7 linked regions of the Homo sapiens genome follow. The protein of the gene in region 1 purifies or fractionates together with the protein of each later gene. This does not show direct contact. Each region holds a gene or a part of one and is shown in the gene's direction. Other genes may lie near its edges.

Region 1 (4,215 bases):
GACCTTTGGCAATTCATTGGCTTTCTGTCTTTAATTTCCACAAGATGGATACATTTAAAAATTAAAAAGCAACCCAAAAACTTAGCTAGGCATGGTGGCTCTTGCCTGTAGTTCCAGCTACACGGGCAGCTGAGTAGGAGGATCTCTTGGGCTCAAGAGTTCGAGGCTGCGGTGAGCTATGATCACGCCACTGCACTTCAGCCTGGGTGACACGGCAAGACCCTGCCAGGCAGTGTAGAAGAGGAAAACCTTCCTGAATTCAAAGTTAGGCCCCCCCTCCGCTGGCTCAGGTAGTTCAGACCATGAACAATCATTGATACCTTGTAGGCGAACTCCAGCTAGGCAGTCAGCTCCATGGGAAAGAAGACCTCTACTCCCAGCAGGGCCTGAGGTATAGTAGGAGCTCAATGAATTCTTGTTGAATGAATAAATCAATTTAGTACTGTGAGCTGGATGGAGATGCATGATAATAGATTTCCTCATCCAACATTCCCAAATATTTGGGGATTTTCTACTTGTTCTTTTATTAATGGTTTATAGCTGAATTCTGTTGTAGTCAAACAACATATTCTGCATAATATCATTGTATCTTAATATCTTAATATGTTTGTATCATTATATGTTCCATGTGTCCCTGGAGCATAGCTGCCTTCTGCAGTTGCTGAGTACAGTTTATAGAAACTTGTGAATTAGGTTAAGTTTGTTAATTATGTCATTCACATCTTCAACCCCAGGATTTTTCTGTGTCTTCTATCCGTTACTGACAGAGGTGTGTAAAAATCTCCCACTCTGATTATGAATTTGTCTATTTTTTCCTTTTAGTTCTATCAATATTTCTTTTATATATATTGAAGCTATGCACGTACGTTTAGAAGAGTTACATTATCCTGGTGGATTGACTTTCATTATCGTAAACTGTCCCTTTTTGTCTCTGGTAATGTTTCTTGTGTTAAGGTCAGCTTGATCGTACAAGTTTCCCTCTGGTTAATGTACGCATGGTATATCTGTTTCCATCCTTTTACATTAAGCCTCTGTGTCTCTTCTAAGAAATATAAAGCTGGATTGGGCTGGGCGTGGTGGCTCACACCTGTAATCCCAGCACTTTGGGAGGCTGAGGCGGATGGATCACTTGAGGTCAGGGGTTTGAGACCAGCCTGGCCAACATGGTGAAACCCCATCTCTACTCAAAATACAAAAATTGGCCAGGCGTGGTGGTACATGCCTGGAATCCCAGCTACTCGAGGGGCTAAGGCAGGAGAATCGCTTGAACCCAGGAGGCAGTGGTTGCAGTGAGCTGAGATCGCGCCACTGCACACTCCAGCCTGGGCAACAGAGCAAGACTCCATCTCAAAAAAAAAAAAGAAAAAGAAATGTAAAGCTGAATTGTTTTGTTATATTCGTTCTGATGATCTTTGTCTTTTAATTGGAGTATTTATTTTATCTAATGTAATTACTGATATATTGGAGTTTAAACCCACCATCTAATATTTTTTCTATTTGTAACAATTGTTTTATGTTACTTTTTATTTGTTTTATTGCTTCAATTTTGGATTAATCAAGTATTTTTTAATTCTACCATTTCTCCCCCAAACCCCCTTATTAACCTGTTAGTTGTACTTTTCTTTCAGTATATGGTTCTTACAATGATTCCTATAAAGATTACAACATGCATTTATTAGACTTGCTAAAGTCTAATAGACAATAGTACTTTTACCACTTCCCAGACAACACAAGAACCTCAAACCACTTGAGCTCCATTTAATGCCTTCCTGCCTTTCGTGCTGCGCTTGCCATGCATTTTTTTTTTTTTTTTTTTTTTTTTTTTTTTTTTGAGACAGACTCTCACTCTTTCGCCCAGGCTGGAGTGCAGTGGCGTGACCTCGGCTCACTGCAACCTCCACCTCCTGGGTTCACGCCATTCTCCTGCCTCAGCCTCCCGAGTAGCTGGGACTACAGGTGCCCGCCACCATGCCCGGCTAATTTTTTGTATTTTTAGTAGAGACGGGGTTTCACCGTGTTAGCCGGGATGGGCTTGATCTCCTGACCTTGTGATCCGCCCGCCTCAGCCTCCCAAAGTGCTGGGATTACAGGCGTGAGCCACTGCACCCAGCCAGTTGCCATGCATTTTAATCATACATGTATTTTAAACCCCACAGGACATTCTTCCTGTTTTACACACTCGATCTTCATTGAGATTTACCTACATCATTTCCTACTTCATACTCTTCATTCCTTCCTACGCCTCCTTACTGACATCTGGGATGATTTTTCCTTTTGCCTGAAGAATTCCCTGTAGTATTTCCGTCTTGTGGGTATTCTGGTGACAGACTCGCTCCTCTTTTGTTTATCTGGGATGTCCTTATTTTACCTTCGTTCTCTTCACTGGGCACAGATTCTAGGCAGACTTATTTTTTTCCGCCCTTTGAAAATGTTGCGCTGTTGAAGTCTTGTCTCCTTATTTGTGTTGAGGGGACCAGCTGTTAGTCTTTCTGCTGCTCTTTCTAAGGTAACTCAGCTCCTCTACCCTGTGTTTAAGATTTTTCTTTCTATCTTGTCTTCTCTGCAGTTGGATTTCGATGTGCCCAGATGTGGTTTTCCTTGTAAACTATACTGTGTGGGCTTGATGTCTTTTGTCATTCTGGAAAATTCTAGGCCATTATTTCTTCCATTATTTCCTCTGCACATCCTTTCTCTCCTCTTCTTTGGGATTCCATTTATGGGAATGTCAGACCTTCCTATGCCCTGGCTTCTAGAGTGCAGCTCTTCAGGAATGCATCTGAGAGCCTGGAGCTGTTTAACAGGTCCCTTTGTCCTTGGCAGGTTCTGAACTCCCGGTCTCCCCAGTCCCTGGAGGCTGCCTGCAGCTTTGCTTAGCTTCTCAGCCTGTTGATCACTGCCGTGGAATTGGCGAGTATCTTCCGGGGGAAAGCAGAGACAAAAGTGAGCCTCACCTCAATGCCCTTCCCATCTCTCTGGATTCTTGGTTCCTTCAGTCCTTGGTGCCTCGGTAGCTTTCTCGTGTCTTCGAACATATGTTTTTAATATTTTACCTTCCTTTTCTAGTTGTTCTTGGCAGGTAGCTTTATCTACTGCAAGGTAGCCTGATACATCCAGAGGCAGATGTGTTGCTGAGCAGAAATGACAAAGAGGTGGTTTCTGTCCCTTGGGCCTGAGGGTCCGGTGGCAGAGCCAGACATGACAACAATGTAAAGCACCAGCAAAATGTGATGTCAAAGGGAAGCAGAAATACATTCAATCTGATAGGAGGACCTAGGAAGGTCTCTGTGAAGAACAGGAAGGATTGCACCAGGTGCCATTTGGAGGGGAGGGGAGGGGATGGAGGCGCGTTGTTCTAGGTGTCAAAAGCTGAAGCTGGTATAGGCTGATATGATGGGATGTGTGCCATGGGCAGGGCTGGGGTGAGAGAAGGGAGACACCGTCGTGGGAACCGAAGCAGGGAAGGTAGGCACGTGCCACACATAAAGGCTTTTGTATCCAAGCTGAACCAGGACTTTTTATATGGGATGGCACATTGGGAGTGACCCATTCTGGCTTTGCTTGCAGTAACTGTGCAACTCTGGCAAAATCTCTAACCCTCTCTGGTTCTTGATTTTGTTGTAAAATAAGAATCCTAATAATACCTGCCTCTTCTACTCCCCAAGGTTCTTGTGAGGCATAGGTAAGCTTGAGGATGCAGATGTGCTTTGATGGGAATGATGAGTGGCCAGGACCCTGATTCCCTTCAGAGCCACACTACTAGGGGGTCAGGCTGTGCGTTGGTCCGTTGGTCAGGAGCTATCACAGGAACCCTCCATCACTTTCTGGCCTTGTTTGTTAGTCACAGGATGAGCATGGCTGGCTCTCCGGTGACATCAGAAAGCTTTCCAAAATCCTCAGTTCTGACTGTCCCCCAGGCTCTAACATCTCCACCCCAGCATCCTCTTCGGGGCACTGAGCACTGCTGGTCACCCAACAGACATGGAACTGCCTCACTCCAAGGCAGATCATCCCTCCATGGGCAGCTCTGGACAGCTCTGACTACAGGAAAGTTAGCCAGTCCTTCCTCAAAGGTAGTGTGCCATGACCAGAAGAATATGATTAGCCTACTCCTCTGCATAGGGTTAAAATAAAATACCTTATGCCCCCACCTAAGCTTCCACCTGCTCATCCTGGTTTGGGGCCCTGCATGTTTCTCCACAAGACACACGTGTGCTC
Region 2 (4,215 bases), on another chromosome or scaffold:
GCACCATTCAACAGAGTGAGACTGTATCCCCTCACCCCCCAAAAAAGAAAGAAAAGTGATTTAGTAAATACAGCCAACAATTCTGTTTCATTTGCATTTAAGTATCTTTTAAAGTTGCCTTTCAGATGAAATAGCCTATACAAGCAAGCATATAAAAATGTACTTAGAACTAGGCTTTAAAATCATTGTATCACAGAGAATTAAACCAGCATGTTCAAAAGTAATCAAGCATATTCTGTTACATTGCTCTCAGTACAAAATATGACATTCTACTGATAGAATGAAAAATAATTTTTACATGATTTTAATCTTATCCTTTCAGGACTCTTTTTCTATAAATACATTTGTAATTTATTAATACAGTATCACATATAACCCAGGAAAATTATAAAACTGGTATGTAACTTATAAATATTTACATATATATATCGAGTGGTTCATCAGATTTTTTTAAATGGCGATATGTAATTTTATTGTAAAGTTCAATAATGATCATACCTGGAAAAAATCTCACAAAGATACGTAGACCCAAATGGAGGTAAATTGATCTAGACCAGTGTCTCTCAAAACTTTAAATCACCAGCATGCTTTTTTGATGATTCCATCTAAGATCTATTGAAAAAAATCCTTAGGTGTGGGAATAGGGCTATGGAGTCTGCATTTTGAGCAGATATAACAGCAAACATTTTATGGTGTTTATTGTGTTTTAAGTGCTGTTTTAAGCACTTTACATTGACTCATTCTTCACAGCAGCCCTATGAGGTATAGGTACAGGTGACTAAGAAATTTGCCCAAGGTCACCTAGTTAGAGTGTAGGGTTAGCATTGTATGTAGAAAACATACCAGAGAATTCTTTTGCATACTTTTGGGAACCATTACTCTAAGTCTAATCTAAGTCATTTGAAATTGGGAAAGCTTTATTCTATAAAATAGTAAAGTTGGGTAGGCGGGGAGAGGGTGATGCATAGTAGTACTTTCCAATTCTAAGGATTTTAAGTCTTTGTCAGTCAACACTGGGTAGCTACTTCATGGATTTTAAGTTCAGCAAAGTGAAGTCCATTTTTTAGCACCATGTTAAAGGTATGTTTTTAACAGAATCAAAGTAATGATAAGGTTTTCAGTTTTATAGATATATAGTAAAAGTGATAAAACCAAATGTGTGTAGAATGGAGATTTTTATGTTTTAATTGAATTTTGGGGTTGTCTTTAGGTTCACTGGGAGGAGAAATCTTGATTTCAATACTTGCTTTTGAAAGTCTTCTAAAGTATATTAGTATACCTTCCTACCTTGATTTATTGAACAAGATGACTCACTGTTTTGAATATTCTCATTGTCCAGTCTTCTGTAAACTTACATGTCGAACCCTAGACTCACCTTGTAAATTAAATCAGAATGAAATTATTAATGAAGTTTTATTTCTTGTTTTTTCCTTTCTCCTAGAACAGTGGTCTCAACGTGGCTGCACATACAAGTCACCAGAGAGGCTTTTAAAAGATGATATCTGTGTCCCATCCCTAGGGATTCTGATTTAATTGGTCTGATTATTCTTACGCGCTAGGGCTGAGAAACCACTGTTCTGTAGGATGTAGGGGAGGAAATTTCTTGGGCTTTTGTTGTTGCTCCCGTAAATTAGGATAATACTAAAAAAAATACTTGAGGTAGGAGTTACTAGACTATAGAGGGAATATTGTACATACATTTTCTGTCAAATTTAAACATTTAACACCTGCATTTTTTATTTCAGATTTATTGCTAAACATGGGTGCATTTTTGGATAAACCCAAAACTGAAAAACATAATGCTCATGGTGCTGGGAATGGTTTACGTTATGGCCTGAGCAGCATGCAAGGATGGAGAGTGGAAATGGAAGATGCACACACAGCTGTTGTAGGTATTCCTCACGGCTTGGAAGACTGGTCATTTTTTGCAGTTTATGATGGTCATGCTGGATCCCGAGTGGCAAATTACTGCTCAACACATTTATTAGAACACATCACTACTAACGAAGACTTTAGGGCAGCTGGAAAATCAGGATCTGCTCTTGAGCTTTCAGTGGAAAATGTTAAGAATGGTATCAGAACTGGATTTTTGAAAATTGATGAATACATGCGTAACTTTTCAGACCTCAGAAACGGGATGGACAGGAGTGGTTCAACTGCAGTGGGAGTTATGATTTCACCTAAGCATATCTACTTTATCAACTGTGGTGATTCACGTGCTGTTCTGTATAGGAATGGACAAGTCTGCTTTTCTACCCAGGATCACAAACCTTGCAATCCAAGGGAAAAGGAGCGAATCCAAAATGCAGGAGGCAGCGTGATGATACAACGTGTTAATGGTTCATTAGCAGTATCTCGTGCTCTGGGGGACTATGATTACAAGTGTGTTGATGGCAAGGGCCCAACAGAACAACTTGTTTCTCCAGAGCCTGAGGTTTATGAAATTTTAAGAGCAGAAGAGGATGAATTTATCATCTTGGCTTGTGATGGGATCTGGGATGTTATGAGTAATGAGGAGCTCTGTGAATATGTTAAATCTAGGCTTGAGGTATCTGATGACCTGGAAAATGTGTGCAATTGGGTAGTGGACACTTGTTTACACAAGGTATGTAAACTTTTTTGTCATTAAAATAACATGTTAATTTTGAAAAGTTACGGTAGGTAAAGTTAAGCTAACTTAAAATTTTAAAACTTTTAATATTTTCACAGAAGCTGTATATTTTGAAGTACTTTACCAGAAATGAAACCATTGTTTTCTTTGCCATCCTTGTTTGTCCCAGCCTTCTAATTTGAAAATTAAGCTTGATAAATTTGAGGCATTTGTTGTCATTTAAGTACTTCATAGCTTGTTGCTGTAGCAAAAGCATTTACACAGAGTGACTTTTTCTTGACATTGGCAGTAACCATCTTATGCCTGATTATGAAGCAGCTTGATAAAATATGTATATAGTAGAATTCTGTACTAGATATTACTAAAAGATCAAGAGCCATGTGAAATATTGGAAGATGTACTAGATGCCTAGCCTGTATAAAATTTAGTCCTGAGCCTCCTAGCAGTGAAGACAAAAACTGAAATAAAAATATGGGTTGTATATTTCTCATTGTCTTCTAAAAGCAGCTCTTATCTGGCAATACAATCTAAAAAGGATTTACATGTGGCTCTCTAAGTAATACATGACTTGGATAGTATCTTTTGTAGAAGATAAAATTCTTTTCATATAGATGTTTTTATTATTTCTGATTAAAAACCAAAGGCTTCTATAAAACATAATCTTGTGAAAAATTCCTGTGGAACACTAAAGTTTATTTAGATTTGTAATTTTGTATGAATCATTGCTTGATACAGTAATAGAAAAAAAGTCCAGAGTAATAGATAATTGGCAATCCTTTGAATATCTTTAAAATACTCAGTTGTTTCAAGTGGGTTTTTGACAGCATCTATATATAATTCAATTAAAATTTGAGTTATCTGGCCAGTGTCTGGAGTGTGTAAGTATTTGACTGAAAAGATACCAAGGTAAAACTGACCTTTAGTTACATGAAATAAATAAAGGGTTTGACTTATTTATTCTGTCTAGATTAGAACCACTGTATCTCCCTACTCCAAAATGTACTGTGGAAGGTATGGGCATAACCAGAAAGTTTTTCAGAAAGGATCTCTGGGTCTCTGGAAATGCCCAGATTTTGGTTAAATACCGATTTCTTTTTAATAGAATGGAAAGAGGCAGTTTTAAAAACAGAAGATTTAAAGGCCGTTCTTGTCAGTGGACAGCCTTTTTCTGAAAGGATTTTAATGATGGTACCTCTAGCTCCTCTGATTTTTATTTTTAACACACTGTATCTTTTTACTTCTGGATGAGTTAAGTAAAGAAGTATTGATGGTTGTCAGTGATCAAATAGTAAGTGGGTCTAAAATTATGTATTTGTCTTTGAACTCTAAATGAAGCAATTCTGACCTGTAGATTTTTGAGACAAGCATAGGCATATGTTTGTTGCCTGACTAGCTAATGAAAACAGCATTTTCCCCAATTATAAAAAAAAGGTATATACTTACTATTGGAAAAAAAATCCAGATGATGAAGAAAATATAGAGAAACACCCAAAATTTTGCCATCCACCCTAAGTCAGCTACTTTCATTGTTGTGGTGTATATTGTTCCAGTCTTTTCTGCCTGCCTGTGAGTGTGTGTATTTTTATAAAACCGAGATGATTATA
Region 3 (4,215 bases), on another chromosome or scaffold:
CGAAAATTTCAGACTCTCACAAGGAAAGGAGGTTCAGTATAAACAATGTTATACAAACAGTTTAGGGACAGTGAGCTGCTTCTATCAGTGAATGGGGAGAACCCTCCTGAAATCCAGGATCTCAGATGCCAGGTTAAGGCCAACCTTGCAAGCAGGCCTTCCTAAGTCCTGCATTTCTACTATGTTAAACTCTGCATTTCAGAAACTTTAGCTCTTTTTTCGTTTCTTGAGATGAAGTCTCGCTCTTTCGCCCAGGCTGGAGTGCCGTGGCATGATCTTGGCTCACTGCAAATTCTGCCTCCAGGTTTCAAGCAATTTTCCTGTCTCAGTCTCCCGAGTAGCTGGGACTACAGGAGCATGCCACCATGCCTGGCTAATTTTTGTACTTTTAGTAGAGATGGGGTTTCACCATACTGGTCAGGCTGGTCTTAAACTCTTGACCTCAGGTGATCCACCCGCCTTGGCCTCCCAAAGTGCTGGGATTACAGGCATGAGCACCATGCCTGGCTGAAACTTTAGCTCTTGATGTGGGGAAAAAATTTCCTTTCTCTGAGTTTCTATTTTTTTCACTGCAATCCAGAATTGAATTGTAAATGTACCAAATAACAATGAGGAAGAGCACAAATATAAAAAAATATATAGTACATCAAACTTGTACAGTACAAGTTTGTTGAAAGTTTGAGGGGTTAGGCCAGATAATTTTCTTTAAAAATTCATTGCTTTCTGGTCTCCATCTTTCTATTTCCCCTAACTCTCTTCAGAGGAGAAAGTCAAGGCAGACTTTGAGGAAAACTCTACTTAATGCTTCAACCACTCATGGACAGGCCCTCTCCGTTTTAAGATAGCTATCAACACAGAAATGGTAGAGTCATAGAGCATCTCTCTATTGCTAGGGAGTAGGGTTAAGGAATATTGCTTTCTCCTCATGATGACATGAAATTGGGTATGGGATGAAAAATTTAAGTTTATGGCACTGGAAGAAATAAGTCTTACTGGTAAAAAGGTCCTGGCATAATTGATTAAATATTATTTACATTTAATATAATTAATTTTAAACTATTAAAGTATCTAATTGGCTTTTATTTTTTTTTTACAGGTTGTTTCCACTTTGGAAGAAACCTATGGACATTGCGATCAGAATGGAGAAGAACCATTTGTAAAGCATGAACATGAAGAATTATCTTTATCTGTAAGTATATGCAACCCTAATATAGAGACATTAACACTGAAAAGGGTCGATTTTCTTTTTAAAAATATAAATTTAAAATATTTTCTTTTGGAGTACTTATTATATCCTCAGAATGAATTTCCCATCCATGAAAATGATCCTCTTAGAAAATTACTCAACCCAACCAAATCCCTCTTGACCTGAATTTTGCCAAGAAGTTTGCAGAAAAGGAGTTCTACATACCCATTAGGAATGACCAACATTTTAAAGATAGAGAATAATCACATTTTAGTAAAGATATGGGGCCACAGGAACTCTCATACAGAGCTGGTGGGAACACAAATGGTACTGCTATGTTGAGAAACAGTTTGACAGCTGCTCACAAAGTTTAACATATACTTAAAAGATAACCACCAATTCCACTCTTAAGTGGTTATCCAAGATTAATGAACACATACATCCTCACAAAGTCTTGTATATAAATGTTTATAGAAGTTTCGTTCGTAACTGCCAGAATAGCTACTGAATCCAGCAACCCAAATATTTACTAACTGGTGAATGGATAAGCAAATTGTGGTATAGCATACAATGAAATACTCTTCACAATAAAGGGAACAAACTACTGACACATAGAACAATGTAGATGAATCTCAAAAACATTAGGATGTGGGGAAGCTAAATAAATAAGGCTACATATCATATGATTCTATTTATATGAAATTCTGGGAAAGGGAAAACTGTAGTAAAGGACCAGTGTTTGTCTTGAGCTAAGGTAGGAGGGGAGAATTGACTGCAAAGGAGTACAGTGAAGCTTTTTGAAATGATGGAAATGTTTTATATTTTTATTGTGGTGGTGATTACCCAACTATTAAAAGGACTATGTAATCACAATCCTTATCCTGCATGACCTTGTGGTTATTATGTTTTGAAGCCCTGCCAGGAATGAATCAAAGAACCAAAACTAAAATCTGAAATTGAAGTCCAATAGAAACTGGGATGACTAGAGGTGGGAGGGAGGCGGGGTAAGGGTTGAAAAACTAGCTATCGGGTACTGTGCTCAGTACTTGGGTGACGGGATCATTGGTACCCCAAACCTCAGCATCACGCAGTATATCCAGGTAACAAACCTGCACATGTACCCACTAAATCTAAAACAAAAGTTAAAAAAAAAACCACCAAAAAAATAAAATAAAATGAAATTAAGTTCACTTTCCTGTGGTCTCCAATACTGACAAAATTGAAGAAATCAGCCCTTCGGATATCCCCTTTATTTTACTGAATTTCTTTCCTCCAATGATCTTGTATTTTATTTCACATCAACCACTAATGGACAAAGTGATATCCTGTAGTCCTTACCATAACTGTTTCATAATTTGAATTTCAGTCATCCTAATCTGTGGCCACCACCTCCTGTCTTTCCCACTCAGTCTGTCCAATATTCTGTCTCCAAAAATCCTTTGATTTCACAGGGAAACATAATCCATTGGTCTTGCTGCCTTTTTAGTGTCCGAAATCCTCCTTGTGCCCTTACTTACCCAGCTTAAATAGCATGGTCCACTATTATCATCACTCCCTTTCACACGTACTTAACTCTCTTGCCCTGTTCTGCTTTATTGGTCTCATTTGGTTACATTATAAACTTGGTCAAATCAATTTCTATCTTCTCTGTATTTCTCTATCTTCTCTATATTTGTGGCACCTGAATGTGGGTGGAAGAAGTAGGCTAATAGTTTCTCTTTATATTTGTGATTAGTAACACTAATCTGTTCATTTTCCTCTCTGCTGGATGATTTAGTTTTTTTTCCCCGTCTCCTATATGATTATAGGTCTTTATTGTGACAAGAAGTATGTGAGCCTCTCAGCATATTTATTTATTTATTTATTTATTTATTTATTTTATTTTATTTTTATTTTTTTGAGACAGAGTCTCGCTGTGTCACCTAGGCTGGAGTGCAGTGGTGTGATCTTGGCTCACTGGAACTGCTGCCTCCTGGATTCAAGCGCTTTTCGTGCCTCAGCCACCCACGTAGCTGGGATTACCGGTGTGCGGCGCCTCGCCCAGCTAATTTTTTTGTCTTTTTAGTAGAGACGGGATTTTGCCATGCTGGCCAGGCTGGTCTTGAACTCCTGACCTCAAGTGATCCAACTGCCTCAGCCTCCCAAAGTGCTAGGATTACAGGTGTGAGCCACCGCGCCTGGCTCAGTATCTTTAAATGTAATGCTCAGGGAATATATTCTTCATGGAGAACCACTCTATGAAAATCCTAACTGTATATAAGCCTGTAATATTTGTTTATCATGAGTCAATTCTCTGATTTACGAATCACTGCTTTACTAGAAGGGATTTGATCGTTATGACATTTAAGCTGTAACTATTTTTTCCTCAAAGTTGTGTATTGCCCATTAGGTGAGAGCAGAAGACTGCAGTTCATGGCAATTATACAGTTAGGTATCATAGGTAGTAGTCATTTTCTAACACCAAGAGATTTTTTTTTTTATGGTAATGATTACCTTTTATTGGGCCACCCAGAAATTTCAGTACTATGAGGCTGGGATGCTGGATTTTCTGGAACTGTGTAGAGATGAATGAGAGGAGAGACATGGCTGGGTATATGTCACTGATGGGCCACTTCCCAAAGTGTACTTTCTTTCATATTTTTTCTTTGGGAGAATTTGCTAGTATGGCATTTGAAGCATGGCTTCTTGCTGTAAATGTTTGAAGGGACATAAATTACACAAAATTAAAATTTTTCAAAAAGTAAATATGCTAGAAAAAGACAGACATGCATATGGATTCTTAAATGTAACTTTATGTTTTATTATTCTTTTCAAAAGGTTGGGGATGATATGAATTCATTCTTGACATATTGTTCGCAATTTGCAGCTCAGCTAGAAGAAGCACTTAAAGAAGAACAAAATGTATGTATTCTGTATATACTGTCAAGTATAAAATATCAAACTTGTACTGGTTGTTGAAAATTGAATCTGCTATCCAGTCAGCCAACATTAATCTAGATTCAGTGTCTTAAGAAATTATAAATGGCATT
Region 4 (4,663 bases), on another chromosome or scaffold:
TCTGGACACTGCCTTTTGGGAGTGCTGGAGTTGCATCCTCAAGGACAGGGCTATGCCTTCAAAGAGCCAAGCAAAGAACTTTTCCTGCATTTTCCCACACAGACACTTCCTAGATTCTTCTGCCTTATGCCTGCCTTGGTCAGTGTAGCTAGGATGTGCTTCAAATGGAAATTATGCAAGTGAGAAGGACCAGGTGTAAAGACAATTTAATTGTGGGAAAAGGCTTACAAAGGAAGGTCATTGTGACCCTCACAAGCAGTGTTCTTGAGTGGATAGGACATAAACAGGGAAGAAAGCATGTGATCATGAGAACAGCTGAAGTTCTGAGTGAGCAATGACATGAATGGTGTCCAATTCAAAGAAAAGAGAAGGTAGATCCAGGAGCTGAATAAACAGACAGAGCAATTTTGAGAGATACATCCAGAAAGCAGAAGCACACACTTACACTTTAGCTCTGAATCCTGGCTAAAGCAACATACAGAGGCGGTAACTCCTAGAACTCTGATTTTCACTCTGTTGCCAGAGAGGCTCTTCCTGGGCAGCTGTGTGCCATGCAAATGATAGAAACAAATCCCATAGTATTGTAAGTCATAGGTTAAGGAGCAGATTTAATTTCATAAGGAGAAATAACACAATGCCAGTGTCAGCAAGAGCAAGTCTCCCCATCATCCCAAGGAGAGGAATTCTACAACCTGGGTATCTACTGGACATAATGTGGGCTCCATTCTCACAGAAGGAATCCTTTCCACTGTGGTTCTTCCTGTGTGGCTTACGCATGAGACAAGTGTAAGAAAGTGGCCATGTCAATAAGAAAATAAGCCAGCTCTTTGGTGCCAAGAAGTCTGATTTGGGGGTGCCAGCTATTTATAGGAATTGTCTAGAATTAAAATATCACCCTGCCTTGGGGATTGTGGGGCAGCTGGGGATCTTGGACATCTGCAGTATATTGCAACCACACCTGAAATTAAGAAGGACTCAATGACAATAAACATCTTTACATCACCCAGTGTCTTGAACTCACTTCCCCATCATGTAGAGCAGCTCAGGTCTTCTCTAGCTCTTCCACCTCATGATGGGTAGTGACTGCTAGGGAAGTCCTGATCATCCTAGCCCTCCAAGAAATGTTTTGAATAGCATTGCATCTTGAACTCACTATAATTTGATCAAGCAAAGATGTTCTATGTCTCTGGTCTGAAACCTGCCACCACAGCTGTGTTCTCTGCTTTCAGAGACCAGGGGAGCAGTGACTGAAGCTAAGACTACACATAGCACTTCAGACAGGCAAATTAGGAGGGAAAAGAAAACTGAATCTGTAAACTCGGGAAAAACTGGTGTATCTTTTGAGGTCCCAGCCATTTTGAGAAACTCTGATGCTGAAAAAATAAGGAAGAACAATCTGACTCCTCTCTCAAACGCTGACATTCTAGCTGAGTGTTGATTTTTTCTTAGAAAAACAAACTTTGGGTCAACAAGGAAAGATCACGAGTGGGGAGGGTGAATGGGTGATTCACCTCATGGATCTCCCTGGCAGCTCTTGCACTTCCTTGATCAATCTGTATATAAGAAATGTGCTGGGCACCTGGGACACCACTTCTCTGGGACACATTGCCTTCTGTTTTCTCCAGCATGCGCTTGCTCCAGCTCCTGTTCAGGGCCAGCCCTGCCACCCTGCTCCTGGTTCTCTGCCTGCAGTTGGGGGCCAACAAAGCTCAGGACAACACGTGAGCCATGCCCTTCTCCTCCCCACAAAAAAAATTGCAGGGAGGGCTCCTCTCCCAGTCTGGAAATTACATATCTCTTTCTGAGAATTTCTTTCAACTTCCCAGAACTCTAGTCCCAGGAGCTCCCATGGATCTCCTGCCAGGTTCCACTTCTTGTCCTCTTAGGAAGCCCCACCAACTCCTCTCACATTTTTGCTGGGTGTTTCTGCATTGCCAGTGGAAATAAAGCTCCAAATGTACCTACAGGCTGTAATTAGTAGTTAGTCTTCATCTAACATGCTGATCCACATCTTGTTCATAATTTATACCTTTGTTCAGATTTCTGCTCAGTAAACTTTACCTTCTCACACCTTGCCTCCTAGAAGAGAAGCATAACAGGTCTGTGAATTCCAATGGCAGCTTAGGGCAGCTTTGGCAGGACTGGCTAAAGGACCAGAGGCCCTGGCCACTGCCCTGTGGTCTGAGATTGAGCTAGACTGGCAGCTTAGACATTCTTCCTAACCTGAAGTCTGAAGATGAATATGATGACCTCTTGCTCTCACGTATACTGGGACCTGAGAGCACAGGTTCAGAAGTCAACTTATTGAGAACACATGTGTGAAGGAAGCAGAAAAATTGGAGCAAGTAAAATAAAGTAGAAAATGGAGCCAAGGGTCTGGGAGAAAGCAGCGATACCCAATCTAGGGAGTTTTCTCTATAGCAGTAGGGTTTATAATGCTGGGTTTCTGGGTTGTGATCTTGGAGGTACTCTCTATGGCATGGTCAGATATCCTGTCCTGGAGGAAACTGTTCAGGGTTTTGACAAGCTAATGTAATGGAGGCAAGTGTCCCAAGAAACCCTGCATGGGGACAGGTTCAGATCCCACCCCATTCCCGCCAGATGACAGTCCACTTAGCCCTGAAGGGCAGCAAGGTATTCAAATAAGCTATGCTAATTAGGTTATCAACCATCCATCCTGATTTGCCCAGAACTTTCCTGGTTGTAGCACTGCAACTCTGCCCTCCCCCGCCACCTCCACAACCCATTCTGGAAAAGACCTCAGTCCTGGGTAAACTGAGATGGTTAGTCACTCGAACTAAGCTGGTCATCCTATCAATCTGAAACTCATATACAAATGGGAGAGATTTTGAAGTTGCTTAGGTATTTATACCCTTTTCCTGTGCACTGGGCACTACAGCAGTTGGCACCAAAAAATAGAATCTCTCTAAGATGCTTTGCCCCAAGAAAATGGGGCTGTGAGACACTGTGGGCTAAGAATCTCAATTCCCTTCTGTCCCACACAATAACAAAGGTCCGTAGCCGGGAGTTTCTAGGGACGAGAAAATAACTCTCCTGGCCCCGAACCCAGTCCTCATTGACTGAAGAAGAACATTTGACCATTTTATTTGTCTCCATTTCCTTTCCTTTTCAGATTGCAGTGTATGGTCTAAATGTAGAGTAGTATCTAAAGTTCCCAAACATGGCCATATGTCCAAATTTCCTAAGGAGCTAAATAAATACAAATTCCTAAACCCTACCTGGGGACCACAGAAGGAGGATCTTCAAAGATGCTCCTACAAATACCTCCAGTGCATTGAGATGTTTGCTGGGTTTTTAAAATTTTTTATTATTTTATTTTATTTTTCCATAAGTTACTGGGGTACAAGTGGTATTTGGTTACATGAGTAAGTTCTTTAGTGGTGATGAGATTTTGGTGCACCCATCACCCGAGCAGTATACACTGCACCATATTTGTAGTCTTTTAGCCCTCACCCCTCTCCCACTCTTCCCCGCAAGTCCCCAAAGTCCATTGTATCATTCTTATGCTTTTGAGTCCTCAAAGCTTAGCTCCCACATATCAGTGAGAACATACGATGTTTGGTTTTCCATTACTGAGTTACTTCACTTAGAATAATAGTCTCCAATCTCATACAGGTCACTGCAAATGCTGTTAATTCATTCCTTATTATGGCTGAGTAGTAGTATTCCATCATATATATATATATATATATATATATATATATATATATATATATATATATACCACAGTTTCTTTATCCACTCGTTGATTGATGGGCATTTGGGTTGGTTCCACAGTTTTATAATTGTGAATTGTGCTGCTATAAACATGTGTGTGCAAGTATCTTTTTTGAATAATGACTTCTTTTCCTCTGGGTAGATACCCAGTAGTGGGATTGCTGGATCAAATGGTGGTTCTATTTTTAGTTCTTTAAGGAATCTCCACACTGTTTTACATAGTGGTTGTAGCAGTTTACATTCCCGTCAGCAGTATAGAAGTGTCCCCTGATCACTGCATCCACGCCAACATCTACTGTTTTATGATTTTTTGATTACGGCCATTCTTGCAGGAGTAAGGTGGTATCGCATTGTGGTTTTGATTTGCATTTCCCTGATCAAGAGGTTTGCTGGTTTAATGTGATTCTGTTGCTAGAAAATTTTCTCCTAATAATGACTTGAGCCCTCCTACTCAGTAGACAACCACCAGAGCCTGTAGGATGTTATCAGGAAGTGGCATGTGGTATTGTACATTTTTTCTTTTTAAAAACTTGTTTTTGGTCAATGGAAGGGAAGAAGATGCTCGTTCATTGATGGGCATTTGGGTTGGTTCCATGATTTTGCAATTGTGAATTGTGCTACTATAAACATGCATGTGCAAGTATCTTTTCTAAATAATGACTTCTTTTCCTCTGGGTAGATACCCAGTAGTGGGATTGCTGGATCAAATGGTAGTTCTACTTTTAGTTCTTTAAGGAATCTTAAAGTGTCCTAGTTGTTTTATTAAACAAAATTAAATCTGTGTGAAGTTACCAATCCAATCAACACATGAAAATTCCAGGGGATTCCAATGCTGAACAATTGATCCAAGCCCCATAATTTCCCTCCCTTGCCCATCCTGTGCCCCTTGCCCTGTTCATGGCTCCCCCCTCACTCAAAGATTGGT
Region 5 (4,215 bases), on another chromosome or scaffold:
CTGATGTTTATGGAATGCTTGTTACTTGCCAGGCACTATAAGATTTTTCTAATTAATCCTAACAGCAACCCTGTGAGATAGGTGCTATTGTTAACTCCATTTTGCAGTTGAATAAACTGAGGCACAAGGAGATTAACTTGCCAAAGTTGGTAGGTGGCAAAGCCAAAATTTGAACCAATTAGGGACTGTATTCTTAACCAATTGGCAGTGCTGCCTCTCTAAAGATAGGAGATGGGCAGATAATGTATTACATTTCCAGTGGAGAAACTGAGGCACACATTTAGTTTAGCATTTGAGTTGTAGCCACACTCTGAGTCAGTGTAGATCTTTAAGTAGTAGTTGGAATACCTAATTCCTGCTGTGCCACAAGGTCTCACTGTTTATGTAGTCTGCCAAGTGGATATCAGATAATAGATGCTTGGTCCCTGCCTGCCAGACTCTTCCAATACCAGTGACCAAAGCAGAGAAACTTCATGTGGTTCTTGACATCATGTACCCCTGCCTGCCAAACTCTTGTTTATGTTTTTGTCTATAATCAAGTTTATTCTATAAAGTTACATTTTTTTGTTATTTGTTTTGCTGTTTTAGTTTTTTCTTATTTATACAAATTAATTGTGCTAGAGAGAAGTACATTTTGTTTTCAAAAGCCAATATATATAATTTGTTCCTTAATTTGTCAGCATTTACGTGCTAAAAATGGAATGATTGGATTAAATAAATAAGAGATCCGATTATAGTCATTCTTGGAAGGTTGGTGGAGATTTTTATTTTGAAAATGTTTTCCTACTCAATGTAATAACATATTTATTGTACTTAAGGTGGCGTGGTTTAGTTCCAAAGCACTGAACAAGGATGTGGACAATCTGGGATTTATTAGCTATGTGACCTTGTGAAATCAACCTCTCAGAGCTGTTTTGTTGTGGAGATATTATTACCATCATATGCCCTTCTTCTTTTGGTATTGACTAAATGACTCAAATTTTACTTAGTAAGTAAGTTATCTTTATTTTTTTCAGGCCAATGCATATATACATTTTATCTGCACTGTCTAAAGTCGTATCTTGTAAGTGTCGTGTAACTCTGCAGGCTTTATCTGTCATGAAGTGCCTGCAGCTTGGGTTACCTAGGGACCTAGGAGCTGGCAACTGAAGCTCTTTAGTTGGGCCTCAGGAGGCCCATGGAGTGCTCTGAAATTAATAGGCTTAATGTTGTATGTATTTGTGTTTTTCTGTGGAGATGGGTTATAGCATTCATTGCATTCTTAAAGAGCTTCATGATCCAAAAAAATGAAAAAATGATCCATAGGTTTGCCATTCAAAAAAGTTTTCTTGGAGAAATTAGGTAGTTATAATAGATCATAATATGATTTTCACATGCATTGTGCCATCTTTTGTCAGGCAGTTTTCCAGTTTAATTTTTATTATTCCTACCCTTTAAGTCTTGATGTCCTTATGTTTTTCTAGATTTTTTGCTAGAAAGAAGCAGGAGATAGTAAAGCTGGAGATGGGATAAGGCAAAAGAAGTTTTGAAAGAATAGTCTCAATATGGTTTCTGAGGAAGTATCTTACCTAGTCTTATGGTTTTAGTCTGGTCCCTGTGAATGATTCCTAGCCTGTGTATCCAAGACTGGATACACAAAGACTCCAGGCTGTAAGCCTTAGAGTCATCTTTAGTGACTTCTGGACTGGGCTTCTTAGGCATTAGCTAAATTCTGTACACAGGCATTTTCCAAAGTGTGGTTGGGGTGCTTCAGGAAAAGCCATACCATGAGTAGGTTAAAGACTGAGAAGTCCTATGGTAAAGAAACCTGGTAAACTTTGCTTAACCTAGCAAACTCCAAACTTACTTGACTATTAGATTCTTTTTCTCTGTAATACATATTGCTTGTCCTTAGTACTAGTGTTTTGTAGAACATGCTTTGGAAACGTTGATATTGATTTTTTTTCACCTTTGTGTGTTTGGAAGCCATTCCCTCTGAAGCACGGGCTGCCGTGTTGTTAAGCTTCCAGGTAGGATTCACATCGTAGTCTGTGTAAATAGATTTAAAGTGTCTGTGAAAGCTGGCAGGAAAAAAGGTGAGGATTGGGCAGTAAAATAAGGAAACCAATTTATATGCATTTAGATAATTACGTGTTAGTTTATTTGTAATTATGCATCTTTCAAGGTGTTCTATTTAATATCATCATAGACTAATTCTTCCATTATAATCAGCATTTGTGAGAACCTTTCTGGAAAACTCAATTCTTAAACCTAACGGATAAGGAATATGAAGACCTTAAGCATTTAGAAAAGAACATTTGAAGGAAGCTCAAACATTGTTATTTGGAGTTATGCTCACTTCTATTTACTTCCATTTAGGATAGACTCTAATAGACTCTAGAGAGACCAGAAGAAATGGCCCTAAACTTCAGAAAGATCATTTGAAGTTGAATAAGGTAGAATTTCCCATCATCAGTTGCTATTTGAGATGAAAAGTGACAATGAAACAGGTAGCGAGGTAATTTTTCTAGAGTGTTTGAAAAACAAACAGGTTTTCTGACTTTGATGCAGATCTGATTACCTAAAGGAAGTACTTACCTCCAGCCTTTGATCTGTATATGTATTTATTGGTGAAACGTATCTAATGCATCATTTTGTATTAAGAATGAATAGTAAGTTCTCTCATGAGAGTACATTGAACAGCCATCATACATTGAACAGCTGTAATATGAGAGGAAATGTGTTATGAACTGTGAGTAGAGTAGCAGAAATGACAAGGCTTGGTACTTGGTATTTACAGGAACATAAAATGTGTACCTGCTATTAGCTGTCATAGTTTGAGATCAGAACCTTTTGGTTTCCTCATTTATATCATATTAAATCTCTTGCTGGCTGAGAGACTCTCTAGATACTCCATAATTGCACAACCGACCTCTGTAGCACAGCATAGTGATTTGAGAACAGGGTTCTGGAGCCAGGCTGCCTAGTTTCACCACCCACTAGCTTTGTCCTTAGGCCAATTACTTAATCCCTCTCTGTGTGTCTCAGTTTCCTCAGCTGTAAAATGGAGATGCTTAGAAAAGTGCTTGGGACAGTACCTGACACAAAAAAGTGTGGTCATTGTTAATTGCTGTTAGTGTCTAGAAGTATTTATTATTATGTATTTCTCCTCCTACTGTCCTTCTAACCAACTGCATTCCTCATGCTTTGCCTCAGGGTTTTTAGCTTGCTGTCTCTGCCTAAAATCCACCCCTCCCCACCAATATCTGTTTGGCTTGCTTCTTCGTTTAAAGTCTCAGCTCAAATGTCATCTTTTAATGAGCCTGCTCCTTTCCACCCTACAAAAAACAGCACTTCTCCCACCACTTTCAGGGATACAGTTCAGGGATGGATCCAGGTTTTACGGGACCTGAAGTTGATGCAGTTTTGGGGACCCTCATTAAGAAAACAAAACTAGAATTAAAAAAGGTATGAAAGTGAATCTTTAGAATGAGAAAAGATATCCCAACAAAATACTGTAACCTTAGGTCCCTTTCTTCTGAGACTTCCTTAGGCATTTAATCACAAATGCTCACAAAAAAATGCTTTCTGATGACTCCCTGGCTCCCTGTCTCCACCTGGAATACTCTACATGTCCCAGCAACTCTCAGCACTCATAGAGGACCATGCAAGTGAAGGGGCCTGAACTTTAAGTTTTGTTAGCTTCACAAAAAATTCAGTTGGACTCTTTACTTAATTTTTAATTATGGCATGTATCACCACATGTTTATTTGTTTATAGCCTGTCTCTTCCCACTAGAGTATAAATCCAGGAAACTGGTGATTTTGCTTTGTTCATTGCTGTATCCCCAGAGCCTAGAAGAGTAGCTGACCCATATTAGGTTCTTAATAAATATTTATGGAATGAATAAATGAACCAACACGAGAGGAACAAACCATGGCTACATGAGTTTAGAGGAAGGAGATCATTATTTCTGACTGGGAGAAATCACAGCAGGCCTTGCAGAGGAGGTGGCATTGGGCTTGACTTAGAGTTCTGGCAATAGTGGGTACAGAATGAGTTAAATGTAATGGGTTATTATTAGGTCTTAAATCTAATCAGTAGGGTTAATGTATCTTTGGCATATTAAGCAATGTTCATAATTGTTATATGCATATGAAGATACTCCGTCATTTTGAACTAAATACCCCTAGTGACTGACTAGTGAATACAGCAGTAGGCTATCACATATGACTT
Region 6 (3,775 bases), on another chromosome or scaffold:
AGTCTGTTTACTTTACCCACTGTGCTTGGCATGTGTAATAGTCTATAGGAAGCATTTGGTGAGAACACTATTTGTAAACACCTGGCGCAAAGGTGCTGACATGATAGTTGTATTTCTGCAGCATCTGGCCACAGTGATCTTGGCCAAAAGCTCTTCCTTAAAGACTGGAGCAATTGCAGATCTGGAAACCTAACCTGCTTAACTGAGAGATGTGATGCTGGGTTGATTCAGTGTTCTTGCTCTATCTGGAGCATAGCTGGTGAGTGCTCCAAAGAATTTGAGTCACTCCTCTTCCTCTTTTTCCTTATCTTCCTCTTCCTTCTTCTTCTCCAATTATAAAATCACATTCTTGGAAAGCTTCCTGATCATTAGCCCAGATAAGAAAGCTCCAGCAGCACTGTTTTAAATGTTTAATATACAATGTTTAGTAAGCCCCATTGATTGCAGGAAGAGTTTTAAAAAGATGTGAAAGACATTCACATTGACAACATACGTATCGAGTGAACAATGTGTACTAAAATGAACAGATGAGAGGTATACATTGGGGTGTGAGTTGATAATCTAGCAGGTTGTGGGGCTAGAGAGCTTTTGGAAAAGACAATGGAAGAACATACAAACAAATTAAAAAATACCATTTTTCAAAGACTAAAACCTGTTTGGAAAGAGAGGTAGAGAAAGCAAACACATAGGATCACACTGAGTTTATATTTTCCCCTAGATTTCAGACTTTAAGTGCTCTGACCTCTATTCTGGAAAACTTCTAATTATTTACATAAGATACTGTGAGTCTATGCATCTTGTTCTCTATATGATGTTCACAGGGAAACATACAGGCATGGTTCAATACATAGATTTAAAATGAATGCTTGTAACTTTGGTTCCCTTTTCTCCATTTTCTTAATGTGGTGAATAAGAGTACAGTTTTACAAATGAAAAGCCTGTAGTACACTCCCTTGATGGTAGCAGTGGCAAATGTACTGGAGAGACTGGATCTCACTCTGGTATCTATCTTGGGACACAAGTGCCTCTTTGAGGGTTGTAGAAGACAACCCTCAAAGAGGAAAGGAATATAGGTAAAATCTGGGTTTCTGCAAGAGAAAGAGGTGGAGCAGAAAATTTCAGGCTTGAACAGGATCAACAGATGGCACAATGTGGTCAGTGCCTCCAAACCCAGAGGTAAATAAGATGCTCTTCTGTTTACAGTTCCAGGGAGGAGAGTTGACCTGGCTGTGGTCATACAGCTTAGCAAAAAAATCTGGGGCCAGAACTCAGGCCTTTGTTAGGTCTCTCCTTCCTTCTAGCACATTGGCAAATTGTACAAGGAAAGTAGAGGTGGAGATGGGTTCATGTACAAACAATATGGCATTCAGCTAAAGTGGATCAGGGCAGGAAGTTTTATGATTTAGGGAATGTGTAAGACAGGAAGCATTCATTGCCCCCAATCAAGAAAGAGAGCCCTTGACCACCAGTTAGAGAATCCCCCAAGTCCCTCTTTGCTGTCACTGAAACTGAGATCTAAGGCAGGGCCTCAGTGAGTCAGGGCACTTAATCCAGTGGAAAGATCCCAGAACAGGATATTTCCCAGTTTGAGAATCCCTGTCATGCCAGTTATGGATAGATTTGCATTTTAGTTGGGACATTGCTGGGCCAGCCCAGTTTTGGGTAGTTCCACTTCCTGCTGGGTGGGGTAGCAGGCCCTATAAAGAGGTTCTCTGCTCTACAACTCCTAAACTCCTGGTACTTGAGCACTGATCTGCTTTGGAGAACCTGGTGAGTCTGCTTCCTTGAGTTCCTCTGTTCTTTGTGCCCTGAAGTGTTGAATTTAACCTGAATCCAGCAAGTTTGGTGGATCCAAACCTGTGATCATAGGTTTGATGGTACTTAGTTGATGGAACTACAGGATTAGATTACATGATACAGTGTTTTACACAGATTTTTAAAAAATGTACAATTATATGTCCATATGGACAGAGAAGTTAATAGGAAAGTTTTGGTTTGAAGAAAGGGATGAAGTATTTTTCTCTTTTCCATATTTTCCTGGTATCCTTTTCAAAGGTTTGTGTCTTAGCAGGTGTGAGAGCCAGTACTTCTTCCTGAACAGCCCTTGCTCTGTGCCCAAGTCAACCCACTGGTGCTTTACAACAGATAATGATGATAGGAATAGCTTGTGAGATTGCCCAGGAGGTCTGAACTTGTGACTGCCTTTCCTGAAGATGTCATTTTCATGGAATAACATGCTTGCTTCTTTATTATAGAGATGTTTTCTTTGGAAAAATTGTATGAGGAAAGGCAGGAATTCCTAGGGCTGATGAAACAACTTGCTAAAGTGGAAAGGAGAAGACAGGAAGTCATGAAAAGAGAGCTAAGAGTTTAAATAAATTTTTGGAGATTGGAGAAATAATATGCCATGGTATTACATAAGCTTTGGCTTCTCTCTCTGGAGGAGTCCATTCCTGTGAACACTGTCATATCATTTCTTTCAGATTCTGAGACTCCAGCAGGATGTCTTATCAACAGCAGCAGTGCAAGCAGCCCTGCCAGCCACCTCCTGTGTGCCCCACGCCAAAGTGCCCAGAGCCATGTCCACCCCCGAAGTGCCCTGAGCCCTGCCCACCACCAAAGTGTCCACAGCCCTGCCCACCTCAGCAGTGCCAGCAAAAATGTCCTCCTGTGACACCTTCCCCACCCTGCCAGCCAAAGTGTCCACCCAAGAGCAAGTAACAGCTTCAGAATTCATCAGGAGCATGAAAGGATAAGGATAATTGGCTCACCTTGTTCCACAGCTTCACCTGCATCTTCTCATCAAAGCCTACCATGGATACACAGTTAGCTTCTTTCCTCTTAGCCAGTGATCTGCCCATGATGATCCCTGATAGCAAAAGGTTTCCTTTCTGAGGCTGCCATATTGCCACTGTCCAGGTGGAGACTGAGAAAGGAAGTCCTCAGCAGTGTCAGTTCCCAGAGCTTTGGAAGAAGGACCAGCAGCTCTGTCCCTGGGAACCATCAAAAAATGCTGTTGATGTTTTCTGTGTCTGTCTGTCACCTGGGCATGGGCTTCTAACACCTGTGCAATTGTCACTTTTCTTTCACTCCCTGAATAAAATATCTTTGCATACGTATTTGTGAATGGATCTTTTGTTTCTTTTCAAATCTGCTTTATTAGTAAAATTATATAATCATTTGGGTTTATTTCCACCTTTCTTTCAACCACAGTCAGAATCTTAAAATTTGGGTCATATCAAAGATTATGTCTGTATTATTTAAACCACTTTTATTTTCCTTAATTAGTGTTTGATTGATTTGAGGAACATATTATTCAACTTCTGTGAATGTCAATCTCTTTATTGCAAAGCGACCAAAATAACATTTACTTAACAAACTAGTCTTGGGATAAATCTAATTACTATCTGAAATTTTGTTGTCGCAATGCCTGACACATAATTAGCTGTCATTTTAGAAGTTTATTGGCAGTAACATATCATCATTGTTTCCACCATTACCACCACCACCACCATCATCATCATCATCATCATCACTCCCCATGACAACCACTACCATATTTGTTCCAGCAATAGAGTGGCTTGGATGTAACTAATATAAAAAATAAGAAGACTCTGTTTTTTTTTAAATTTTATTATTATTATACTTTAAGTTTTAGGGTACGTGTGCACAATATGCAGGGTTGTTACATATGTATACATGTGCCATATTGGTATGCTGCACCCATTAACTCGTCATTTAGCATTAGGTATAACTCCTAATGCTATCGAAGACT
Region 7 (4,215 bases), on another chromosome or scaffold:
TCCACTCATGATGATTTCCTTGACCCTGGGAGCTCCTGACATTCTAATTCTCAATTAAAGGTCACACCCACTGCCACCACTTTCTATGCAGCTACTACTGTTCCAGAATCAAAGAACTTTGCCAAAGCGAGGTGCAGAACCACAGAAAACTCACCATTACAAACCTGTGGATTAATGCTTAACAACCCGGACAGGACCCAGGGCTGCCAGAACATTCTTGCAGTCATATTTGTTGGTCTTTTTCTAGAAACCCCACAAATGTAAATCTCTCTTCAGTTGTTCATTGCCTCCCACCCCCATGGTCCCTCCAGCAGGATGTCTCAGTTCCTACTCTTCTTAGGCCAGCTGTCCCCAACCTTTTTGGTACCTTTGTGGAAGGCAATTTTTCCACAGATGGGGTGGAGGGGATAGTTTTGGGATGAAGCTGTTCCACCTCAGATCATCAGGCATTATTTTCTCATAAGGAGCACGCAACCTTGATCCTTTGCATGCAGTTCACAATAGGGTTCCCACTCCTATGAGAATCTAATGCTGCCGCTAATCTGACAGGAGGCGGAGCTCAGGCCATAATGCTCACTGGCCCACTGCTCCCCTCCTGCTGTGCAGCCCGATTCCTAACAGGCCATGGATGGGTACTGGTCTGCAGCCCAGGGGTTGGGAACACCTGTCTTAGGAGATTGCAGATCTCTGGTAAGAAAATGCCCCAGCTGACCCTATCTCTTGCTGGATCTCATTCCTCCCTAGACTCTATTCTCCTCTCTTCAGCCAGTCCTTCCTCTCTTAGCCAGGTGACTTCATTTCTTGCATCCTCAATGCCTTGTCCCATACTTCCTTCTTCCTTCAAAACATACTTAGACAATAAATGTCCACAAGTCACATCTTACTGGCCCTACTGTCCTTTCATGTTACTATTCAAACTCTCCTTCCTTACTCTCTAAATCTCCCCCAAATGTAATTCATCCACTTTGCCATCAATATCTTTCTATCTATTTTCTATTAAATTAGGCACAGTCCTATTGTTTCTGTAGAATGACTACAGATTAGGGGAAAAGCCTGAGTGTTGGGTGCCTCATGGCTCAAATCCTCAGATCTCAGAGAATAAACACCTCACCAAGATTCATGCTCAGTAGCAATGAGAAATGCTTGAAGAACTCTGGGTTAAATGCATTATACCAGGTGCTTCTCCCTGGTAGCCTCCTCCCCGGCTGGAGACCAAGCGACAAACCTCCACTGTATTCCTTGAGCTCCCGTCACCATCACGCGTGGCAGACTGAGAAAGGTGAAGGCCAACTGCATTCAGCAGGAGATGTGTCCGTTCACCGCCAGTCTCCCACCACCGTTCCCAGCTGGCCTGCATCCTCCTAGTGCCCATCCTGGGGAGTCTTTCAGCACCAAGCTACCTTCTGAGACTTAAGTTTCACTGACAAGCTCCCCTACTCTGCCCCTTTCCCTGCTCCTCAGCTCAAATCTCATCACTCAGGTCCATGTCATCTAACATTAAACCATGCAAATCTATTTTACTGGGAAGAGGGAGGGAGGCTGCAAGTTACAAGTAGAGTGAACCAGAAATCAAGGTCCACAGTCTGACAGGTGCCAGAACACTTCAAGAAACAAACCAGATCTTTTAAATCCCCTCTCTCATGGAAAATTCTGCATTTGTGGATTACACAGATACGATGGAAAAGTTAAAGATTTGGATATATTTCTAGGACAGATAGAAATAAAAACTTAGGGCCAGGCATGGGGGCTCACCCCTGTAATCCCAGCACTTTGGGAGACCAAGGTGGGTGGATCACCTGAGGCCAGGAGTTTGAGACCAGCCTGGCAAACATGGTGAAACTCCATCTCTCCAAAAATATAAAAAATTAGCTGGGAGTGGTGGCAGATGCCTGTAGTCCCAGCTACTCATGAGGCTGAGGCAGGAGAATTGCTTAAACCCAGGAGGGAGAGGTTGTAGTGAGCTGAGATTGTGCCACTACACTCCAGCCTAGGTGACAGAGCAAGACTCCATGAAAGAGAGAGAGAAGAAAGAAAGAAAAGAAAGAAGAAAGAAAGAAAGAAAGAAAGAAAGAAAGAAAGAAAGAAAGAAAGAAAGAAGAAAGAGAGAGAGAGGAAGGAAGGAAAAGGAAAGGAAAGGAAGGAAGGAAAAGGAAAGGAAAGGAAGAAAAAAGGAAGAAAGAAAGAAGAAAGAAAGAGAGAGAGAAAGAAAGAAAAAGAAAGAAAGAGAAAGAAAGAAAGAGAAAGAAAGAAAAGAAAAGAAAGGCTGGTTGGCTTAGGATACGTGCTTAAAAAGAAACATGACTGAAAAGCAGAAGGAACACAGATCAGATATATAAGTTATCATGCAAGGACTTTAAAATAACTATGTTGAATAATTTTTCAACTTTAAGCAGTCATGCTCAACTCATAGCCTTACATTCTCCATTCATAAAATGAGGTTTAAATGGATACTTTGGGGGTTAGTGTAGAGATTAACTCTTTCAAACTCAGCTCCTAACTTGACTGGTGCCAAGTACTGGCCATCCCTCCTTTGGAATTTTGAAAGGCTTTGGAAAGGGACCCTAAGACAATAACCTGTTTCCTTACTCTACTTCTCTGTGCATCCTTTCTCCGCTCTCCTGCCCCTAGCTCTTCCCACTTCTGGTTTGTCCTCACTATTTGTCTTCTCCCTTTCTCCACTTTGAAATTTCATTTCCATCTCAACAGAACAATCACACTTTTCCCGTCTATTCTCAAGGTTACAGGAGAACTGAGTGGTGGTCCGTGGAGTGTTTGGCCTTTCAGAAATGGTCTGAGAACTCACAGTTTGCATATGTCTACATCTTTGAAAACAGTTCTGGTACTCAAACTGAGGCATCAGTAGTAAAGGTTCAAAACATCTGCCCAGGGAGGATTGTTTGAGTCCGGGAATTCGAGGCTGCAGTGAACTATGATCACGCCACTGCACTCCAGCCTGGGTGAGGGGGAGATTCTGTCTCTTAAATTTAAAAAAACAAAAAACAAAAAAAACCTGCCCACTGATAGGAAGGACTGCCTTGGGAGAATCCTAGATGGACTGGAGGCCTGATTGAAGTTGTATGGACATGCAATGCTTTCATGAAGGGCATAAAAGCAAGTTCTCAATAAACAAGGTACATTCAACACAGAGAGTTATATCCTTTTTCCTCCAAAAGACAGAAAAGAATTGGGGTTGAAGGACAAATCCACAGACATAAAGACAACAGGAGATAGGCAAGTACCACCTCAGAAATACCAATAAAATTTTGGAAGTTGGAAAACAGATGAACAATGGAAAATGCTGAGCAGTCTAAACAGAAGCTAAGCCCATAGAGGGGAAAGTCTAAGCCAGAAGCAAGCAGATTCACACTGCAGAACGTCACAATGGCGCAGGCATGAGCAACACCAAAAAGTCGTAGCCAGGAGTAAGGTCTCAGACCAAAAGCAAGAGGACTGATCTGTATGAAGGACAGTGAGACCTCCCATAGTTCCTTCTCCCTCACTGTCCTCCACCCCGGCAGAAGACGAGCTTTACACTTAGCAGGAACTGAGTCAAGAGCTCATAGTAGACTCTTGCATATCAGGCCCAGCTGAGAGTGGGAATGAAGCACTGTACAGAAAGTTGATGGGCTCAGTAAAAGTTTACATATTGAATTTGGGACTGTCTCCCTTCTCATGCTGGGTTCGGGAATGCTGACATTTAAACCCAACCCATATCCCTCCATGGTAGACAGAATGATGGCCCTCCAAAGATGTCCATGTCCTAATCCCTGGAACCTGTGACTAGGTTCCTTTACACAGCAAAAGAGACTTTGCAGGTGTGATTAAGTTAAGGCTCTGGAGATGGAGAGGTTATCCTGGATTATCCAGGTAAGCCCATGCAATCACAGGGTCTTTATAAGAATTATACCCAAATACTGCACTCTAGTTAGTATATTGTTTTCCACAGGGGTATAGGTCAACAATTCTGAAATTATTTTATGTATATGCTAGAACTGAGAAAATAGGCGAATACATTGCAAATAATAAGAACCAGGATTCTTCCTCAGTGTTTGAGAAAGGAGTTATAATAAGGAAAAGGGAAAAGCTAAATGAGTCCTGTGGTATTTGATTTATTTTATTATTTATTTATTTATTTATTTATTTATGTATTTTGAGGCAGAGTTTCACTCTTGTTGCCCAGGCTGGAGTGCAATGGTGTGATCTCGGCTCACTGCA

The links.
Region 2: the proteins of LOXL2 (region 1) and PPM1B purify together in Homo sapiens (affinity purification with mass spectrometry, with the first as the bait; one large-scale study listed by BioGRID). This does not show direct contact.
Region 3: the proteins of LOXL2 (region 1) and CCDC7 purify together in Homo sapiens (affinity purification with mass spectrometry, with the first as the bait; one large-scale study listed by BioGRID). This does not show direct contact.
Region 4: the proteins of LOXL2 (region 1) and PIP purify together in Homo sapiens (affinity purification with mass spectrometry, with the first as the bait; one large-scale study listed by BioGRID). This does not show direct contact.
Region 5: the proteins of LOXL2 (region 1) and MAP4K3 purify together in Homo sapiens (affinity purification with mass spectrometry; 2 studies listed by BioGRID and IntAct, with this or other methods). This does not show direct contact.
Region 6: the proteins of LOXL2 (region 1) and SPRR2E purify together in Homo sapiens (affinity purification with mass spectrometry, with the first as the bait; one large-scale study listed by BioGRID). This does not show direct contact.
Region 7: the proteins of LOXL2 (region 1) and CSTA purify together in Homo sapiens (affinity purification with mass spectrometry, with the first as the bait; one large-scale study listed by BioGRID). This does not show direct contact.

Annotation. Positions count from the first base shown.
Region 1 is NC_000008.11:23,369,368-23,373,582, reverse strand, and holds part of LOXL2 (lysyl oxidase homolog 2 precursor), read left to right. Parts: intron 1-4,215. UniProt on the Homo sapiens protein: Mediates the post-translational oxidative deamination of lysine residues on target proteins leading to the formation of deaminated lysine (allysine).
Region 2 is NC_000002.12:44,199,441-44,203,655, forward strand, and holds part of PPM1B (protein phosphatase 1B), read left to right. Parts: intron 1-1,745; 5' UTR 1,746-1,759; coding exon 1,760-2,605; intron 2,606-4,215.
Region 3 is NC_000010.11:32,452,248-32,456,462, forward strand, and holds part of CCDC7 (uncharacterized protein C10orf68), read left to right. Parts: intron 1-1,096; coding exon 1,097-1,189; intron 1,190-4,003; coding exon 4,004-4,087; intron 4,088-4,215. UniProt on the Homo sapiens protein: May play a role in tumorigenesis.
Region 4 is NC_000007.14:143,130,491-143,135,153, forward strand, and holds the start of PIP (prolactin-inducible protein precursor), read left to right. Parts: upstream 1-1,586; 5' UTR 1,587-1,626; coding exon 1,627-1,721; intron 1,722-4,663.
Region 5 is NC_000002.12:39,430,646-39,434,860, reverse strand, and holds part of MAP4K3 (mitogen-activated protein kinase kinase kinase kinase 3), read left to right. Parts: intron 1-4,215. UniProt on the Homo sapiens protein: Serine/threonine kinase that plays a role in the response to environmental stress. Appears to act upstream of the JUN N-terminal pathway.
Region 6 is NC_000001.11:153,092,479-153,096,253, reverse strand, and holds SPRR2E (small proline-rich protein 2E), read left to right. Parts: upstream 1-1,727; 5' UTR 1,728-1,770; intron 1,771-2,483; 5' UTR 2,484-2,502; coding exon 2,503-2,721; 3' UTR 2,722-3,119; downstream 3,120-3,775. UniProt on the Homo sapiens protein: Cross-linked envelope protein of keratinocytes. It is a keratinocyte protein that first appears in the cell cytosol, but ultimately becomes cross-linked to membrane proteins by transglutaminase.
Region 7 is NC_000003.12:122,331,497-122,335,711, forward strand, and holds part of CSTA (cystatin-A), read left to right. Parts: intron 1-4,215. UniProt on the Homo sapiens protein: This is an intracellular thiol proteinase inhibitor. Has an important role in desmosome-mediated cell-cell adhesion in the lower levels of the epidermis.